Linked DNA regions of Homo sapiens. The protein of the gene in region 3 purifies or fractionates together with the protein of the main gene of each other region. This does not show direct contact. Each region holds a gene or a part of one and is shown on either strand. Other genes may lie near its edges.

The links. Proteins that work in one complex are often made in the same cells at the same time.
Region 1: the proteins of TRIM43 (region 3) and EARS2 purify together in Homo sapiens (affinity purification with mass spectrometry; one large-scale study listed by BioGRID and IntAct). This does not show direct contact.
Region 2: the proteins of TRIM43 (region 3) and SIRT3 purify together in Homo sapiens (affinity purification with mass spectrometry; 2 studies listed by BioGRID and IntAct, with this or other methods). This does not show direct contact.
Region 4: the proteins of TRIM43 (region 3) and MLF1 purify together in Homo sapiens (affinity purification with a luminescence readout; one large-scale study listed by IntAct). This does not show direct contact.

Annotation. Positions count from the first base shown.
Region 1 is NC_000016.10:23,532,103-23,537,566, forward strand, and holds part of EARS2 (nondiscriminating glutamyl-tRNA synthetase EARS2, mitochondrial), read right to left. Parts: intron 5,453-5,464; exon of another isoform or gene 5,282-5,452; intron 5,131-5,281; exon of another isoform or gene 4,902-5,130; intron 3,259-4,901; coding exon 2,786-3,258; intron 664-2,785; coding exon 555-663; intron 1-554. UniProt on the Homo sapiens protein: Non-discriminating glutamyl-tRNA synthetase that catalyzes aminoacylation of both mitochondrial tRNA(Glu) and tRNA(Gln) and participates in RNA aminoacylation for mitochondrial protein translation.
Region 2 is NC_000011.10:221,595-227,058, forward strand, and holds part of SIRT3 (NAD-dependent protein deacetylase sirtuin-3, mitochondrial), read right to left. Parts: intron 4,488-5,464; exon of another isoform or gene 4,079-4,487; intron 2,646-4,078; coding exon 2,484-2,645; intron 1-2,483.
Region 3 is NC_000002.12:95,596,477-95,601,079, reverse strand, and holds the end of TRIM43 (tripartite motif-containing protein 43), read right to left. Parts: intron 3,752-4,603; coding exon 3,729-3,751; intron 3,201-3,728; coding exon 3,103-3,200; intron 1,989-3,102; coding exon 1,507-1,988; 3' UTR 1,302-1,506; downstream 1-1,301.
Region 4 is NC_000003.12:158,594,478-158,599,941, forward strand, and holds part of MLF1 (myeloid leukemia factor 1), read left to right. Parts: intron 1-2,384; coding exon 2,385-2,468; intron 2,469-3,602; coding exon 3,603-3,731; intron 3,732-5,464. UniProt on the Homo sapiens protein: Involved in lineage commitment of primary hemopoietic progenitors by restricting erythroid formation and enhancing myeloid formation.

The sequences.
Region 1 (5,464 bases), on a different chromosome or scaffold from region 3:
ACACCCAGCCGACACTAATACCCTTTGACTCAGACATGTTAACTATGATCTGAGTTGGAACGATATTTGGAGGTTTCCAAGTGAAGAGCTACTTGCAATATCAAATACATGAAATATAAAGTAGATGCCATGAGACAGTGCTCACTCACTGTGTTGGCTGGATGTAAGGCTGAGGGTGGGGAGGGAGTCTAAAATGAAGATACACCTCTCCAGGCTTTGGTTGTTAACAGAGTCCATGCAAGGGGTGGCTAGGAACATAATGTTAATGATAAAAATATACGTACCATTTACTGAGCACTTTGTATGTGCCAGGGCTATACAAGATATTTTCATGCAACACTTAATACAAGATACTTTCATAGAACAAGGATATAAGATCAGTACTGTTATTAATCCCATTTTAGAGAAGAGAAAACAGAGGCTCAAAGAGGCTAGGTGATTTAGCCATGGTCACACAGAATTAGGTACCAGAGCCCATTATACCCTCTGCTGTAGGGATCATCATAAGCAAGAAAGCCCTTTGCCACCAGGGGATCTCCATGCTCCCCACTCACCTGTTGAATTCTGGGAGCTTCTCCAGGTCCAGCAGGGCTGAGTGACAGGTGACCTGTGTCAGGTTGAACTGTGTGATCAGCTCCGGCAGGGTCCTGCCCATTTGGTTCTCTGCAAAGAAGAGAGGCCCAGCCACTCAGCTTCCTCTCTCCCTTCCTCCTTCCACTTTATCTCTTTTTTTTAAGAGACAGGATCTTGCTCTGCTGCCCAGGTTGGAGTGCAATGGTACAATCCTAGCTCACTGTAACCTCAAACTCCCAGGCTCAAGCAATCCTCCAGCCTGTCTTCCAAGTAGCTGGGACTACAGGCACATACTACCGCACCTGGCTAATTTTTAAATTTTTCTGTAGAGCCAGGCATGGTGGCTTACACCTGTAATACCAGCATTTTGGGAGGCAGAGGTCGGCAGATCATGAGGTCAGGAGTTCGAGACTGGCCTGGCAAACATGGTGAAACCCATCTCTACTAAAAATACAAAAATTAGCCAGGTGTGGTGGCGCATGCCTGTAATCCCAGCTACTCAGGAAGCTGAGGCAGGAAAATCACTTGAACCTGAGAGGCGGAGATTGTAGTGAGCTAAGATTGTGCCGTTGCACTCCAGCCTGGGCAACAGAGCGAGACTCTATCAAATAAATACATCATACACACATACATACATACATTTTTCTGTAGACATGGAGTTTCACTATATTGCCCAGGTTGGTCTCAAACTCCCAGGCTTAAATGATCCTCCTGCACTGGCCTCCCAAAGTGCTGGGATTACAGACATGAGCCACTGTGCCCGCCCTCCTTCTACTTTCAAACATAAGGGAGGCTGAGTGAGCAAGCCCTGGGCCCCCCATTCCACTTTGCCCAAAGGGATTTAACTTCTAGCTATTTATATATCAAGAGCCTGAATGAGCTTTCATTTTCAGAAAGGGTTCCATCATTAAAGAAAAAAAGGTCTGAAAACAATCAGGCTAAACCCATCTCCATTACTCTCAAGACACGAGCTGCAGAACAGTACGCCCATTGCCTGGCTGTACCAGAGACTCTGAGTCAACTGGGTTTGGTTGGGGTCTGAGCATATTTTAGAAGCTTCCTAGCTGATTCCAAAGCACGATCAAGAGTTAAGAACCAGGCCAGGCACGGTGGCTCACGCCTGTAATCCCAGTACTTTGGGAGGCCAAGGCGGGTGGATCACCTGAGGTCAGGAGTTCGAGAACAGCCTGGACAACATGGTGAAACCCCATCTCTACTAAAAATACAAAAATTAGCCAAGCGTGGTGGCGGGTGCCTGTAATCCCAGGTACTCGGGAGGCTGAGGCAGGACAATCGCTTGAACCCAGGAGACGGAGGTTGCGGTGAGCCGAGATCGCGCCATTGCACTCCAGAATGGGGGACAAGAAGTTCTGTCTCAAAAAAAAAAAAAAAAAGTTAAGAACCGTAGTGCTGGGAGCTGCTTCTTGTGAGCAGCAGCTCAGTCCCATACGGTCAGCAGGCATCGTGATCAGGCATAGGCCTAAAGCGCTATATCCCTCACTAGGTGTGTGACTTTGGCAAGTTACTCAGCTTCTCTGAGCTTCACAATCCTCTTACAAACAGTGGAGATATGTATCTACCCCTTAATAGTATGTTGTGTTAAATGAAATGAGACCAGCAGGCAGGCTATTCTGGACACATTTTCAGAAATCCTTCAGGTCATCCTATTTGATGCTTGCTTCTTCAAGGTTTGGGTCTAAGTCTTGGACCATGGGTAAGTGCTCAGCTTGAAATAAACTAGATTCATCTGGCAGTAAAATGAAGAAGGAAAAAAAGAAACTAAATCCATATTAATTCTAGTCATACTGTTAGCATACATGCTTGTAATAATTGTCACAATCATAGGGTCTGTCATTTTTTGTGCTTACAGTGTGACAGGTGCTGGGCTGGGTACCTTACACTCCTGAGCTCAGTGAATCCTAACCCAATGAGGTAGACACTTATCCCCATTTTCCAGATATGCAACTGAGGCTCAGAGACTATAAGTCCCTTGAGGGCAGGGATCATGTCTATCTCACCCACTACTGTAGCCCCAGCACTTAATGTGGTGTCTGGCAAAATAAACATTTATTGAATAAAAGAATAAACTTGTCCAAGGTCACCTGGCTGGTAGGTGGCAAAGCTGGGACCAAAGAGCAGGACTGTCTGAGCCAAAGCCCTGCTCCTCCTGGCCATGCTCTCTGCTGCCAGGACTATTCAGGTGGGCACGTACCTGCAAAACCTGAGCCACAGTTGGTGATGATGTCCAACAAGGAATCGGGCAGGAAGCCATCAGCAGCAAAGTGCTCCAGGAAAACGTCCCCTTGCCTCTTGGAGAGCTTGCTGCCATCCCTGTTGAGGAGCAGGGGCAGGTGGGCGAAGTGGGGTGGCTGCCAGCCCAGGGCCTGGTAGAGGAGCAGGTGCTTGGCAGTGGAGACGAGCCACTCAGAGCCTCGCAGCACGTGGCTGATGCCCATGTGGTGGTCGTCCACCACGCAGGCCAGGTGGTATGTGGGGAAGCCGTCGCTCTTCATGATGACTGGGTCTCCCTCCACGCTGGCCACTTCATGCCTATTCCAGCCATAGACCAGGTCCTGGAAGGCTGGCACCACCTGCTCCAGGCGGAAGCGGATCGCAGGCTTGGGGTCCTTGGCCAGCTTCTGGGCCACCTGCTCCTGGCTCATGTTCCTGCACCGATTGTCATACCTGATGGGGAGCAGAGCAGCATGAGTACTGTTGATGGAAAGGTTGATGGACAGGAGTCCTACCTCTGTCATAGCTGTGTGACCTTAAGCAAGTCAGTTACTGCTGCAAGCTGCTTCCTCAGTCTATAACAGGGATGATGGTACAGTTGTGTGGAAAACTGAGATAACATGGTGTAGCAGACACTAATGTCTGCCTATCTACCAGCCATTCCACGCTTCTTCCTTGCTAACAAGAAAATAGCAAAATGCTTAGTCCGAGGGGTTGAATCCTGATTGGTATAGCCAATCTTGCAATCCTATTGCTCCATGCCAGTGACCAGTCCAGGCAGGAATGTAACCCCATCCTAGTCACTGGGATGCAAAGAAAAGCATGCCTGGGGAGTAAGAAAGGTTTAAGGTTCCGGGAAAGGTTTTTCTCTCCAAAGGACAAGAAGAGAAAGCCACAGGAGGAAAATCCCTTCTTAAAATTTCCCACTGCCCCACTTCTGTCCTCTTTGGATGTTGTCCTGTAAGGGGAGCATGCTTGGACCTGCGGCAGCTACTTGCAACTGCAGGAGGGAAGGCAATGAAGTCAGAGAGAAGCCAAAATAGAGCCCTGGTGTCTCTACACTGCTAGTCTCATCCTGGAGTCACCCACCTCCAGCCTTGTGCAGAATCAAAAGACAAATGTCTATGATTGATGCCCTGGCTACTGAAAGTGTGGTCTGTGGGCCCCTAGCATCAGCCTCTTGGGAGTCTGCCAGAAATGCAGACTCTTAGGCTCCACCCCAGACCTACTGAGTCAGAATCTGAACATTAACTAGGTCCCCAGGTGATCCATCTGTGAGTTAAAGTATCGTTTGTCCCTTCTAACAGGGTATTCCACTAACTGCACCCAAAAGCGTTCTGAGACACAGATGGAATGCTTGTAAGGTTAGTCTTTGCCACAGCTAAGTGTTCAATCAATCAATAAATGGTGCACAGGGCTGGACACAGTTGCTCACGTCTGTAATCCCAGTGTTTTGGGAGGTCAAGGTAGAAGGACAGCCTGACCTCAAGGGTTCAAGACCAGCGTGGGTAACATAGCAAAATCCTGTCTCTTATTTAAAAATTTAAAATACCAGCCTGGGCAACATAGTGAGACTCTGTCTCTACAAAACAAAACAAAACAAAATCAGCCAGGTGTGGTGGTGCATTCCTGTAGTCCCAGCTCTGTGGGAGGCCAAGGTGGAAGAATCACTGGAGCCCAGGAGGTTGAGGCTGCAGTAAACTATGATGGCACCACTGCACTCTAGCCTGGGTGACACAGCGAGACCCTGTCTCAAAAAAAAAACTTTTTTTTTCTTTTTTTTTTTTTTTTTTGAGATAGAGTCTCGCTGTGTCACCCAGGCTGGAGTGCAGTGTCGTGACCTTGACTCACTGCAACCTCCACCTCCAGGGTTCAAGCAATTCTCCTGCCTCAGCCTCCTGAGTAGCTAGGATTACAGGTGCCTGCCACCACAACCGGCTAATTTTTATATTTTTAGTAGAAATGGGGTTTCACCACGTTGGTCAGGCTGGTCTCGAACTCCTGATCTCGTGATCTACCCGCCTCGGCCTCCCATAGTGCTGGGATTACAGGTGTGAGCCACCGTGCCCGGCCAAAAAAGAAATTTTTACAAATGAGTCAGTTGCACATGAGTGAACAGGAGGGTGTTCAGCTGCAGAAGCAGGGCAGCATTATGTCTGAATCAAAGGAACTTGTTTCTTCAAGCTCTTCTGGCAGGAATTCTGACAGTGAGTTTGACAAAAAGTTAAAGAAGAAAAAGTAAGTTGCTCCAGAAAAACTTGTAAAGGAACAAAAGACTGGCAAAACTTTGGGAGCTCTGTCATCTTCCAAACAGAGCAGCGGCAGTAAACATAATAACATGTTTATTTTCTTTTTTAAATTTCATATAGAGATGGGGTTTCACCATGTTGCCCAGGCTGGTCTCGAACTCCTAGTCTCAAGTGATCCACCCTCCTCAGCCTCCCAAAGTGCTGTGATTAGATTACAGGCCACTGTACTCAGCTGATAACATGTTTCAGATTGGGAAAATGAGGTACCTTAGTGTTTGGGATGTTAAAGGGGAAGTGCTAATTGATGGTATTAGAGATTATTGGATGGATCTCAAAGGTTAAATAAAACCAGGAAGAAAAGGTATTTCTTTAAATCCACAGCAATGGGGCCAGCTGAAGAAACATTCATT
Region 2 (5,464 bases), on a different chromosome or scaffold from region 3:
ACCTAAAGGGGATCTGGAGTGGTACTCCACAGTCAAACACATTAACATTTCGTCCACAAAGCACATGAGATAGAGTCTGTGCGTGACACCAGCTCATTCAGTTCATGATGGCACCAGCCTTACAGACATGGGTTTCTCAGTTGGGACCTCATATCCGTGTAAGGGAAACTGTTGGCATTAACAACGCAGCACATCTCCATGGACTCACATTGTTACGTGAAAACAGCAGGCTGCAGAATAGAATGTACAGTGCTGTCCAACTTTTAGTTTAAAATTACCATCTGTACGTATGCATTTGTACAAAAAAAAGAAAGCTGAGAGGACACAGAATAAAATGCTAACAGTTGGTGGGATTAAAAAGTTGATCCTTTGCTTTATATCTTTATATAATGTACGAATCTTTTCAAAGACACACATGATACACTTATAATCAGGAAAAAGGCCATTTTCATTTCACTTCAACAATAAAGATGGCTGGTGGCCCAAGTGTCCACACCTGGTGGCCAGCACGGTCAGCTGGTCTCAGCCCACACTGTGCTGACCACCATGGCCCCTCTGACTGCTCCTCCTGTGTCTGTCCCTCCATCCTAGGCCTAGCATGGCATTCTCATGTCTGTCCACACCCTGGGCTCTCCTGTCTGCTCACTCCAGCACCCCAGCTCCTGCCTCTGGGCCTTCCTGGACTCCAGACTCATGTCCACCTGCTCAACACCTCCAGTCCGCAGCACATCCTCAAATCCGTGGAAACAAGGCTGAGTTCCTGAGCTCCCCCAAACCCACCTACCAGGCTTCTCCATCTCAGGAAGCGGCGGCTCCGTCTTTCCAGCTGCTCCAGCCACAGCCCTGGGGTCCTTGGGAATCCACGGCCTCCCATGCACTGTGCCAGCGTACCCACTCTGCGTTCACACACACCCAGACTCCAGCACCCCTCAGCCTCTGCTGGCTTTACCTGGCCCCCAGCCAGTGCCAGCCGGTGATTACCTACAAGGGCCCTGCTGGGTCTGCTGCTCCCAGTCTTGCCCCCATGGTGGGCTCACAGCCCAGCACCCAACGGAGTCCTCTCAACTTCAGACTCTGGCCTGGAACCCAAGCTGAACCCATTCACCTTCTGAGGTGGCGCCAGCCTCCCATGAGATGACACTTGTGCCCCACCTTCTTCTCTGCTCCAGCCCCGTGGCCATCAATGCTGACTTCGCCCCACCCTCCTTGCTGCTTGTCACCTGTGCAGTGTCCCCTGCCAGACCCTCCTCACCTCGGTAAACTCTTAGATCCAACTCCACCTGCCTGACTTGACACTGCAGCTGGTTCCCAACCCTTCTAGCCTTTCTATCCTACTTGTTATCTTTCTCATAACATCAATCATCTCCTAACAAACTATATAACTTCTTACACTGACATCTGACCGTGTATGTCCAAAGCACTGGAGCAGGGCCCAGCACACAATGAATGCCTGAACAAACACATGCTCTGGGCCCCTGTGGCTGCCCTGGGCCCCTCTGAGCACAGGTCTTTCTGGCCCTTCTGTCCTCGGTGCCTACATCCAGTCACGCACACACTGACTTCATGGTCTCATTTCTTGCTCTCATCACAGCTTTTAGGAATTTCCTGAGCTGCAGACGCAGACGCAGAACAGCTGCTTGAACACATCCAGGGCATGTTTCCCGACACCTCAGACACACACAGAACCGAGCTGGGCATCCTCCCTCCCAAATCACGCCTCACCAGCAAGTGCCCTGACCTTACAGACCAAGCCAGACGCCTCCTTCTCACGTCCCCAAAACATCACAGACTGCGAGTCCAGTCCCCCTCCTCGCCATCCCTCAGGCGACCACAGCTCCACCTTCTCCAGGACCAGCCTCCTGGCACTGCTTGCTCCACTCTCCACTCCCCAAAGGCCTCCCTGACCCCAAGGGTGCAGCTACGTCCCCGGGCCAGTCCCTGTGGATTTATCACTCCTCCCACTGCAGCATCAGTATTCCTGATCTGACCTGGGAGGCCCTGCCCCTCCACCTCGCCCCCACACCCCCATCCTTCTCCCTTCTCCTCACACGTGGTGCCCCACCCACACCTATACCACCTCCAAAGCCCAGCAGCTTCCCACCTTCCTGTCTCCTGCACAGGCTGCTGCTCCCTCAGCCTGGAACCCCAGCTGAATCCATTCACCTTCCCAAAGTGGCACCAGCCCTGGAAGGGCCCATGAGATGACTCCTGTACCCCTCCCTTCCCCTGCCCTCCAGCCTCCTCCCTGCACAGGCCTGCCGACAGCCCATGAGATGACTCCTGTACCCCTCCCTTCCCCTGCCCTCCAGCCTCCTCCCTGCACAGGCCTGCCGACAGCCCATGAGGTGACTCCTGTACCCCTCCCTTCCCCTGCCCTCCAGACTCCTCCCTGCACAGGCCTGCCGACAGCCCATGAGATGACTCCTGTACCCCTCCCTTCCCCTGCCCTCCAGCCTCCTCCCTGCACAGGCCTGCTGACAAACCTCCAGGGAGGTCCCAAGGATGAGCAGCAGATCTGCCATGGGGAAATCAACCACATGCAGCAAGAACCTCTGGGGCAGCGGCTCCCCAAAGAACACAATGTCGGGCTTCACAACGCCGGTGCAGACCGGGCAGCGGGGAACCCTGTCTGCCATCACGTCAGCCTGGAAAACAGAGAAAACAGGCCTGAGGAAGATGCCTGCAACACCCTGTAAAAGGAAAAGGCAACAAGTTCTTATTAAAGTCTCAAACATTCTCCCCCAAAAAAGGTGAGAGAGGGATCATGAACCCCCATGTACCCAGCTTCAGGAATTACCAGTTTTCATAGCTAATTGTTTCACAGCCCTCCGGAATCTGGGAGGAGGTATTGGAGCCTTTAAAAGCAAATCTTGGACATCATATGTTTCACCCATAATTACTTCGGCAGGCATCTAGCGTATCTAACACCATGCTCTATCCCTGGGATGGCAGCCAGAGACATCCAGGCGCTAAGGAAACACCTGGTAGACCACACCAGTCCTCAAACAGTAGTCTGCAGGCATTTGGCCTACACCGAACACTATTCAGTCAGAAAGGTGAAACTGTCTCTGGTTTGAGCTTCGGTGATCATGCCATTGCCTCAGCCCTGGGAGGCATTCAGGTCAGCTTCACTCACTGGCTGGCATTATTAGGAGTAACAACATCTGCCAAACACTGCTTCCTTACTGGCCAAGGTGAAGTGGACACAACTTCCCTTTGCGTCAAGATTAATATAAATAAATGCCTTGGAGCAGATGGAAAAGGGAGAGAGTTACAGAGGAAGACACCTGACTTTCTAAGGTAAACCTTTACAGCTAACGGGGCTTGTTTTAAGCAGGCTCAGCCCAGCAAAAAGCAACAGATACAAAAGACAAAAGAAAGAGACCCACGAAAGATTTCAGATATTCTTGGATACACAGTAAAACTGTATTATATTTAAATTAAAAAGAAAAAACTGTTATCTTGGAGGCATGGGGTATAGCAAAAAAAAAAATTAAGGAAGCAAAAAAAAAAGATGAACTTGAAATATCTATCAAAGGCCAGGCGCAGTGGCTCAGCTCTGTAATCCCAGGACTTCGGGAGGCCGAGGTGGGCAGATCACGAGGTCAGGAGATCGAGACTGTCTTGGCCAACATGGTGAAACCCTGTCTCTACTAAAACACAAAAAATTAGCCAGGCGTGGTGATGCGTGCCTGTAATCCCAGCTACTTGGGAGGCTGAGGCAGGGGAATCACTTGAACCTGGGAGGCGGAGGTTGCTGTGAGCTGAGATTGCACCACTGCACTCCAGCCTGGGCAACAAAGCGAGACTCTGTCTCAAAAAACAAAACAAAACAAAACAAAACAAAAAACTATCTATTAAAGATATAAAATTATTAAAAAATTATGTAATAATGTAGCAGACTTGAAAAATAACCAAATAGAACTTCTAGAAATAAAAAGTACAGGAACCAAAATTAAAACTCAATGTCTGTTTTGAGTTGCTGTTTGGGAAAAAAGAAAGAAAGAAACACTCAATGGAAGGACCTTATAACAGAATACAATATTAGTAAACTGGAAAAAAGACCAGAAGAAATTACCCAGAATGCAGCACAAGAAGCAGCAATTACAGGACAGAAGAGTGATCAGGAACAGCAGGAGAGAGAAGGTCTAATGTATGTTCAATCAGAGGTCCCTAAAGAGAGGGGCCAGATAGTGGGCTAGGGGCAACTCATATCCGAAGAGATAACGGCAGAGTATGATCCAGCAACCATGAAAGACGCCAACCCGCAGATTCAGGATCTCAAGCAAGTGAGGGCTACTGAGCCAGCCTGAGGGTGCCCACAGGAAAAACATGAGTCACGGCACATCTGTGCTTGTTTCTGTCCCAAGAGGTTCTCAGGAGGTTTAGTAATTACATGTGGTCCTTCAAAGAGGGAGGGTGGCTGTGAGGTGAGTGGTTACGTACTTGTGAGACTTCAGTAAGTGCCCAGTAAATGTACATTTTACCTAAGATAGAAGGAAACAGAGGAAGAGAACTAAGCAGACCTCTCAGGGAAGGGTGAAGGAACCATTAATCTCATCTTGTCTTTAATCTGTATCTGGGAAGATAAACCAGTAATCCACATTAGCAGTGTAGAGTCTTTGAAAAGGGCTGGTTTCTGTTTAGCCCTTAGTGAAGAAGCCTAATGGTGGCTGGGGAGGGAGGGGTACAGTGAGGCGCGTCTGACCTCCTCTCCTGCTACGGCCAGGAACTCAAGCTTCCAAGGTTTCTCTGGGGTTCCCTTGACCAAGGGGAGGGCTCCATTCAGTTGGTTGCAGGGCTTAGAATTTTATTTTATATTTTATTTTTTTGAGATGGCATCTCGCTCTGTCACCCAGGCTGGAGTGCAGTGGCATGATCTCGGTTCACTACAACTTCTGCCTCCTGGGTTCCAGCAATTCTCCTGCCTCAGCCTCCCGAGTAGCTGGGATTACAGATGGGTGCCACCACAAATGGCTCATCTTTGTATTTTTAGTAGAGACGGGGTTTCACCATGTTGGCCAGGCTGGTCTCAAACTCCTAACTCAGGTGATCCACCCGCCTCAGCTTCCCAAAGTACTGGGATTACAGGCAGGAGCCACCGCGCCCAGCCTAGAATTTTATTTTATTTTTCTTAAGGAAGGCCTACAATTATTATTATTATTTTTTTTTTTTTGAGATGGAGTTTCGCTCTTGTTTCCCAGGCTGGAGTGCAATGGCCTAATCTCAGCTCACCGCAACCTCCGCCTCCCTGGTTCAAGCAATTCGCCTGCCTCAGCCTCCCGAGTATCTGAGATTATAGGCATGCACCATCACGCCCGGCTAATTTTGTATTTTTAGTAGATATGGGGTTTCTCCATGTTGGTCAGGCTGGTCTCAAACTCCTGACCTCAGGCGATCCACCCACCCGGCCTCCCAAAGTACTGGGATTACGGGCGTGAGCCACCATGACCAACTGGCCTAC
Region 3 (4,603 bases):
GGTCAATTGTCAATTGCCCTTTTCCAGGAATCTGGAACTTGAATGGTGTTTCTATAAGGGGCTCGTTGGATCTCATGTTTTACAGGACCCCCAGTCTCTGGATATAGATCCTCAGTGTCCACTTCTTAGGAAGAGTAGGTGTAGTAGGTTATATTCCTCCCCCACTCTCTCTAAAAGAGTGCTAAAATATATATTCCATCCCACATTGTTTTTCTATGATGTAACTTCAAGACTGCTACTGCTGTGTGTGTGTTCTAGTCCCTTTACTTTGTGTAGGGTTGTGGCTACAGCTGATGTTTTACTCTCTGGAATAATGGTAGTATACAATTCTCCTGACTCTATGGGAATCTTCACTGTGGAAAATTATCTACCATGCTGTGAGCAAGCCCAGGGAGCTACCTGGAAAGGCCGTTTGAATATATTCTAGGTAACAGCCCCAAGCAATGAACCTCAGACATCAGCCAGGATCATCTGCTGGACTGGAAGTAGAATGTTTCCATTATTTAATCAGTGATCATGAAAATGACCATCTGGTGGCTAGACAGACTCAATGGACTCACTATAAACTGGGTTTTCATCAGAACTGGGTTTTGTTTGTTTCACTTTTTGTTTTGGTTTAATTTAGTTAGTTTGTTTATTTATTTATTTATTTATTTTTACCTGATACTAATATGTTTCCAATGTAACATGAGGTGTTGGTTATGTCTGGTCTCTAGGTTGTCAATGAGAATTCACAGTCTGTGTGAATTGGAAATATAAACACATTTTAAAGCAGACAGTCTGCACATCTATTATTCCCTGGATGATGCTGTTTGCTTTATTAAACAGCTGCAGAATTCAATGTGGGTTAAACCCTTTTGGTTCTTGCTCAGACATCGCTAGCAAATTCTCAGAAAAGCAATAGGCTGTACCATTAGCCTATGTCTGTAGATGAATATACTATCTAGGTTTTTGTAGTGTGTTCTGATGTTCACACAATGATGAAATCGCCTAATAATGCATTTCTCAGAATGTATTTTGTTGCCATAGGATGCATGACTGTTAAATTCCTGTTCTAGCCCAAAGATTCAGTGACAACTTCTGTGTGAAATAAATTTTTCCCCCCAAAGGGATGAGGTGTAGAATTTACTGTATTAATAGGAGGGAACTCTCACACTTACAAGTGCATTGTACAAAACCCCGTCTGCCCATGATGTACAAAAGTTGTTCCTGAATGAGATCATTAAGTTGGAATCACACACCCACATATTTCCAGAATTCCATCCAATAAATTCACAAACACTTGAAAATCACAATACGTATTTTAGGTAATGGTCCATAAGAGATTATTTTAATTGTAAGAAAATGTACAAAAAGTTTTGCCTTTTACAAATTTTTTATTTAATAGCAATAAAATGAAGTGACACTAAAGTACAAAAAAGCCTGAACAGTATGATTTCTTTGTATCAACAGTGAAGGGCTCCCTTGTATATGGAGTTCCCAAACAGTAAGTTTTCTTAATCCTGATCATCTGTGGCCAGTGTAAAAGAAAGGCCTGACAGGAAAAGTTAAGGAGCCAGCTGGGTAACTCCATATGAGGGAACTCTTGGTGACATTCAAAAAACTCACACTTCCACTTTCAAAATCAAGAAACACACCAACCCGGCCCAGAGGTTTCTCTATGTAGTGAGGAAACACTGGGGAGGTGGTCAAGAGATTGAAATGATTATCCACCTTCAGACACAAAAGAAGAAATATGTCCTCAGAGTTAACCATTGTGCTATTCTTCCTTATCCAGGAGTTGTTACAGACTCCCAGAGCCCAGTCACAAGAGTTGTCCACATCCAGCTCCCAGTAGTGTTTCCCAAAGGAGAAGACCCTGGCTCCCCATGCAGCAAAATAGTCAGATCTGTCAGAATTCAAAGGTCCACGTCTAAACATCCAACTTCTCACATCCTCAAAGAGCCTGATATTGTGATTGGTTACTTCAAAATGGAAGGAAATTTCCACTGTAGAAAAAAGAGAATGTTCCAGTGAAAATCAGTTTGTAAATTCTTATGTTCAGATAAGAAAGAGATTCTCACTAGAAAACACAGGTCAAGATTAGAAAGAAACTTCTGTCTGGAAAAATGTTGGAATCAAAGGGTGTTAGGAGATCTGCACAAGTAAATGGCTAAACTAGGATGATCACAATTTCCATAAACTCAAAAAGTATAAAGGGGAGGAAGGTCATGTCTATGTCTCGTTAGCGACCTTTCATAACAACTGAAAAACTGGAAGCTCCTCCACTGCAGCCAAGTCCATAGCCATAAAATTAACCTTCATTGTCTCGTCTCTGTCAGGGCAGAGCAGGAGGCTTTGGACAGGAGATGAGGTGGGGAGCTATTCTTAGTCCCAAATAAAAAAGTTATCACTTTCCAGAAATATTATGATCTGCCACTTAACCTAGCAAATTCATACTTAAAGAGAAAACCTGAATCTGCCTTCTGAAAAGTGCTGATTCCTTGCAAAAATTATCTGACTTTCATGCCAGATTCAGGCACAGACTTCTTTTATTCTGCTGGATTTGTCATGATCTATCCTGGAGTTCTATCTAAGACCTCATCAACCACCAAATCATGTTCCTATTGTTGACAGATTCTCAGTTTTTGCATTGTTATATAAGTTACTCATGTATGCTTTAGTTGATTAAAAACATGATTAAAATTATAAATGCTATGAAACATCACCTAAAAATGTATTTTTTTTAAAAAAACGCTGTCACTCAAATCAGTCGTTAACTGCACTGAATTTGAAATTGAAATGTCCTGAATTCAGTTCTGTATACTTCATGTAATAATTGTATACATGAAATTGTATCAGAGAATGGTTCCTAAAGTCCTAAAGAGCCCTTCTGCATGTTTTATTTTTCTAAGAAATTTGTTATATGGCTGATTCCTATTACATTTCACCAGCTTTTATTTCGTTTTGTCTGTTTGATGATAGTGAAACTATAAATATAAATACCTATTCACAGGCTATTCTCTTCTTCTAGATGAAAGATCATTACACTGGGAAAGCTGCCCATAGAAAACCATAATTGAAGGCATTGCATGTGGATCCCACCAACAGGGCCACACTCACCTCGGAAGCGGTTGAGCCTGTACACCAGTCCAGTGATGGGTCCTGCAGTGAGCTCTGGATTCACAGGCTGGGGCATGTGCAGCAGCACGGACTCACTCCTGCAAGGAAGTAGGTTGAGTTGGTTAACTTTCTGATGTCTGTGTTTAAGAAACAGATTCCAACAGAAAATGCTTCATTCAAACCCACTTCTGATACCGTAATGTACCTCCACAACGCTAGGATGGGTTTGTGGCTCTTAGGGAATCTTTCTAACTATTCACTCCATTTCTAACCTACTGCCCCTGAAAGATAAATGCCTCTCTCCCTATCTGCCACCAAATAGTTTATCTCTAATTATGATTCTGAATCGCAAAAAGAGGCAACTGTATTCTAGCAACCTCTGCATTGCACTCTTCAAAACATAAACCCCTGAGTCACTTGGGAAAGTAAGAAAAGATTAATGTCTGATAAAAGGCATAGATGACATTCATCATACCACATAAACACATGACTACACACACATACACACACAATCACACTGACACATTATGGTGTTAGTAAATTATGTTTTCACTTTGTTGGAAACAGCTTGATGTTTTTCATAGCATGCCTTGTGCTCCAGTTTGCACTGACGGCCAAAAACATACCTTGCCACGATGTCTCCCAAATCCTGTAGAGAGAGAGAGAAAAAAAAAATGACTTCTTTAGAAAGTTGTTATTCTTGTTGGGTGAGGTGGTTCACACCTGTAATCCCAGCACTTTGGGAGGCCAAGGTGGGTGGAACACCTGAGGTCAGGAGTTCCAGACTAGCCTGGACAACATGGCAAATCCCCGTCTCTACTAAAAATACACACACACACACAAATAGTGGGGTGTGGTGGTTCATGCCTTTAGTCCCAGCTACTAGGGAGGCTGAGGCAGGAGAATTGCTTGAACCAAGGAGGCAGAAGTTGCAGTGAGCTGAGATTGGGCCATTGGACTTCAGTCTGGGTGACAGAAGAAGACTCTGTCTCAAAATAAACACACAAAAAAGTTGCTATTCTGCCTATCTGGTCTTTAGGTTTTCAAAACTTTAGAATTACCGTATACTATTACTGCCACTCTTTTAAAATGTATTCTCATCTCTAACAATTATACCAGTAAGACCTATTGACAATATGGATTTCTGATAAATTAAGGACCCTAAATTTGAGTGAGAGAGAAAGGTGTGAGTAGTGACTGCGCATTGCTGCAGCTGTCTACAATGTGGTCTTTTTCAGGGCTAGTCCCCAAAGTGTAATGTGGCTCAAATCAAGCATGAAATTTTTTCTTCCAGAGTTTTAATGAAATGTGCTGGAGGAGGAAGCTTGTGGTAGAAAATGTTGTATGGAAATCTAGTTGCACAATTCCATAAAGCTTTATTTCCATGATTAGCGTAGGAGTTATAGTTTATCTCTATAACCGGTGGGAATGACTCTCACCGTCAGTACAGGAGATGAGGAAATAATGTCTTTGGTACCCAATGGAAGGCAAAGATGTAAAG
Region 4 (5,464 bases), on a different chromosome or scaffold from region 3:
AGAGTAAACATCATCTTAAAAGCAGAGGAAGCAGTGATGACTTACGTCAAAGTGGTAATAGAGTCATATTCTTGAAATATTAGAAGAGACCATAGTGGAGGCAGGGAAGCCAGAAGGCTGTTGAAGCATTCTTGGTAAAGTATTAGTGATGGCTTACTTCTACTAGGTAATGTCTGTGGTGATAAAAATGAATTACCTCATTTGAGAGAGAGTTAAAAGGGCGAATGGATGGAACTTGGTGATTGACAGGGTTGAAGGAGCAGTAGAGAGGGAGAAGGGAAGTATCACACCCATTTTTCTGGCATGAAGAATAAGGTAGATGGGAATGCCACTGAGATAAGGCATTGATTCAGTACAGATACAGGAGTGAGGTGGTCAAAACAATCATTTTAGTTTTGGATGTTTGGCATTTGAGGCATCTGTGAGTTTTCCAGGTAGATTTATCTGGTAAACTGTTGGATATATGGATTTGAGCTGAGCTAGAGATAATTTATTCATTCATTCATTCCGCAAATATTTATTAAACCCTCTTAAGTGCCAGGAATTATTATATATGTATTGGGGATATTGTAGTAAATAGACAAAATCGCCCTGCCCTCAGAGATTATTTTTATAAAGTGGGAAGATAGACAATAAACAACAAAATAATTTCAGATAGTCACAGTACCCTGAAGATGAAACAGGGTAATGATACAGAGATGGGGGGAAGTGAAGGAGGGATTAGACAGGTGACCAGCGGTGGCCTTTCTCAGGTGGTGATACTTGAATCATGAGAAGGAACTAACTAGGTTTAAAGTCAGGAGGAAACATTTAAGGAAGAAAGAGGAGAATGTGTACAAAATTTTTGAAGGCCTTAAGGGCCCACTGAAGTCTCAACTACATTTTGTACCCCAACTTTTTGTCACTCCAGTGTGTTGGGTCACCCCAGAGCAAGTGCAGATACATCTTTTGATGGTTGATTTGAACATGAATTGAGAAGAGGGCAGAAATACCCAAATGTCTAATCTTTTCCTCTCTCTCTTTTTATCCTTCTTTGGGTTAACCTTTCCATATCTCATGAAATAAGAACGGATTCTCAATCTAGTGTTAAAGCAAATATTCAGAATATTCCCTGAATTGTGTTTGCCTCTCTGAAATGCAAAATTAATTCTACTTCAGTCCTTTTTTACCCAAATATATATTAGTATTTCCTAAATGTGCCTTTGTTGTTCCCTACAATATTAAGTGCAGGTTCTAAGGAGGAATTTGGTTTTCCCACCTATTTTACATTATTATATCTGTAAAAATCCAATAGCAATAGAACACAGAGACACAAATAGAACTTAGGAGGATTCAGAGCTCCGCTTGGTTGAACAGAGAAGTTCATTAAACCAAGCAACTCATTCTGTTTTATAACAGATGATTTACTGGCTAACACATTGGAATGTGTGCCTGACTTTTATTTTCTGGTGAGTCTTCCAGTGATAAAACCTAAAATCAGTGGTAGATTTTAAAACCTAAAATCAGTGGTAGATTTTCCTAGAGCAAAGTTTCTCAACCTCAGCCCTACTGTCATTTTGGGCAGGGTAATTCTTTTTGTTCTGGGAGACTGTCCTATCCATTGTAGGATGTTAAGCTGCATCCCTGACCTCCACCCACTAGATGCTAGTTATATGCTCTCTTCATCTGTGACAGCCAAAAATGAGTATAGTTATTGCCAGTGTCCACTGAGAGTCAAAATCAATCTTGGTTGAGAAACTACTGTTTAGAGGAATTCTTAACTGTTTTTCTGAAGACACATACCTCATGCTTCAAGGGTATAGCCTACTGACCCTTCAGTAGGCAGCAAATTGAAGGCCTATTAGTAAAGTGAATTGATTTCTGTCACCCAGATCCTACTATGATGAGAGGAAGGCTGGCTACTTACTCGAGGGACAACTTCTGTCAGCCATGTGGTACTGCTGGAGGTGACACTGGCATCTTATACGCAAATTTAGTTATTTGCATGGTGGAGTATTGAGAGATAAGGAAAATTATGAAAACTATCGTATGCTAGAGAATGTATCACTTAGTATTTAACATACACCAAATTATGTTTTGAAAAAGTGAGTAATGAGTGATTAGGTGTGTATGTGTTTTTATATATACATGCACATATATGTATTTATAATGTTACAGTTCCCTAATTATTTGTATGTTGGCTCTTTGGGATTTTGTGTATGCTTCAATTTTCTCCTTAACTAATCACTGTCATTATATCCTCTAAGTTATCTTTGTCTGGTTGATTACTGCATGAGATTTCACTAAATGAATTGGAAAAAAATGTTTTAGCTGTTTTGGAAGATGTATTTGCATCTTTTGTGTTGTTACCTACAGTTAATAACATACTTCCTGATATTCTGTAGCATACAGATGTCAGCTCTTTCCAGACAATGGACCAAATGGTGTCAAATATGAGAAACTATATGCAGAAATTAGAAAGAAACTTCGTAAGTACTAAAAACAAAGCATTGAGAACATTGTGTATACTTTGATATATTCTATTTCATAGTGGCTTTCAAACACTTTTTTAACCATAGTGGTTAAAAAAGATACCTTACATGATTAACCCAATAAGCAATATTTGTATACTTTATAAATATATTTGAAGCAAAAGTTTCATGAAAAAATGACTATACTATTTACAGTATATACAGTTATTTTCTAGTCTATTTCATGTATTAAAAATCCTGGTTACAACCCACTAAATTGAGTTCATAACCTCCAAGTTTGAAAAATAATGTTAACTTTGAAAATTTTTTAAAAATTGGAAAAAAAATAACCTCAAAAACATTGATTCTATTGAAAGTCACTATTGTAAATGAACATTTTATATGAATTTGCATAATTTTATTATTAATAACCTGTCTACTTAAAAGGATTTGTAGCATCTGAAGAGTTTCAGGGTTTTATAAACGACTCTGAAAACAGAAATTTTAGGAATAATGTTTAGGTATAGTTCCCTAATAGTCCAAATAAACTAGTACTATAATAATACTCTCTATATTAACATCAAAACCAGTCACTTGATTTGATCTGAAGAAGACCCATAACATTCTAGTCATCCAGTTTGAATTCTATGGATCATTTCAGAATGCCCAAATAATCTAGGGCATTATTGGTTTTAGTAATGTAGCAATCTGGTACCTACAGGAGGAGGTACGAAACTTGATGTATAACTAATTGATTGGCTTAATGTTGGCAAGATTACACACAAGGGTCAACCACTGACTATAGAAGTATCACAGGTTTGGGGGCATAGCATCTTTATTGAAATCTAAGCCACGAGCACCCAAAGACTTAAGGATCTCTGAGTGAGTCACTTATTAGTCTTTGTAACGAGAGTGGGATAATTGTACCTAAAATGGACGACCGTTAGGACCCTCTAGGGGTGACTTTTTTTGGGCGGAGGTAATTTTTCAAGTCACTTCTCACTTGAGAACCTGGGTGTGCCTTTGACTACACCATATTGGTAGTTTAGTATCCTTAGTAGAACTTACAGCTAGTGTTGTTACTTATTTGAACTCTCTGGCAATAATTATTTATATTTGACTCGACTGAATTTACAATTTGTTTACCTGTAGGGTCAACTTTCAGTGGATCCAAATGGACATTCATTTTGTTCTTCCTCAGTTATGACTTATTCCAAAATAGGAGATGAACCGCCAAAGGTTTTTCAGGCCTCAACTCAAACTCGTCGAGCTCCAGGAGGAGTAAGTTTTCTATAAGCATTCCTAAAGTTTTATAAAGTTAGGGGATGATAGACTGTCTAGATCAAATTTTAACTATTAAAATTTAATCTGGTACAAGATGGTGGGGGGACAGGAGGGAGGTGTGGGGGTTGGGGGTAAGGTAGTCCTCACTGTGGAAACCATTAAAGCTCAACTGTATTTACTTAGTTTGTGGCATTTTTTTTGTAGCCCCCCCACCCCCCCGTGAGGGTGCCTTTTTTCATGTAAATATCTATGGATGTTTATTACCTTTACATGTTGACAAGGTAAACAAAACACGAAAAGAAGCCTTTGTTTCATGAAATTAATGTCTATTTTTAAGTTTACATTTGAAGTGAATTAATTTTTTAACTCATGAAATATTTCAAGTGTACAGAAAGGATATAGAGAATAACATAATAAGTGCCCATATTCCTGCCACCCAGTTTAGTCATATCATAACATTTTTCTCTATTTGCTTCAAGTTGTCTCTTGCTTTGTTTTCTTTTTAAGCGAAAATGTACAGAGGCAGTTAAACCTTCTAATACATTCCTCTGAGGTCTATTTTCCCTTTCTCCCCTTCTCAGAGATTACCATTTTCCTGTATCTGGAGTTTATCATTTTCACGCATGTTTTTACAATTTTATTACTTCACGTTTCTGTCATTAAAAAAATGGATTATTTTCCAGATTTCCCAACATTACATAAAGGGTATCATATTGCATATGTCCTCTGCAACTTGTCTTTGCTGAGTAATATGCTTCTGAGATTTATTCAGCTTGATACATGTGGCCCTGGTTTCTTTAACTTCTATGTAGTATCCAAAATATGAATATATTATGATTAATACGCTTCTGAGATTTATTCAAGTTGATACATGTGGCCCTGGTTTCTTTAACTTCTATGTAATATCCAAAATATGAATGTACCATGATTTTTAAATCATTTTCTGTCAATAGATATGTAGGTGAGTCTAATCTTTCACTAATTCATCTTTATACATGGCTCCTTATACAGAGTCTAGGAGTGGTATTGCTGAGTTGTAGGGTATGTGTACTTTCCTCTTTACCTAGCGTTTCCAAGCTACTATCCCAGTGATTGAAATTGTTGGCTTCCAAAACTGTGGCTTGTGAGTTTCCATTTCTCTACTTCCTTGTTAGTACTTATAGTAAAAATTTAGGTTTACCAATCTAATGAATGTGAAGTAGTACATTTTTTAGTTCTTACATATAAAGATGAACCTTTTAATGATGCTTTTGCCATAGTTCTGCTAATTAATCTCAGACATTTTAATTTTAACTTTCTAAAAGTGACAAACTTAAATGTAAACAGAATATAATTGTAGATGTCCCACAGTAAATCATGTTAGTTGCTATCAGAAATATTCTTATAATACTTCCATAGAGTTGATAGTCGGGAATCATGAGATTCAAGCCAATCAATATGACTGATGAATAATTAGTTGCCCTTATTTGTAGGAATCCCACCATAAACTTCCTTCTATTACATTATCTAAGACAGTCTTGAAGGCATTAAACTATAATTGCTACTTTTGTTTTAATATTTGATTACAATTTGGAAAAAGGTTAAATTGTATGGGTTCTGTTTGTTGTAGACATTTTCATTTTAAGGAGTTCAGGAAATATCAGAGACTTATTACCACAGTTTTACCACAAGTTAATAGTGGAACTGAGCACACATTATTTTTAGAGCAATAGATCTATGGCCATATCTCT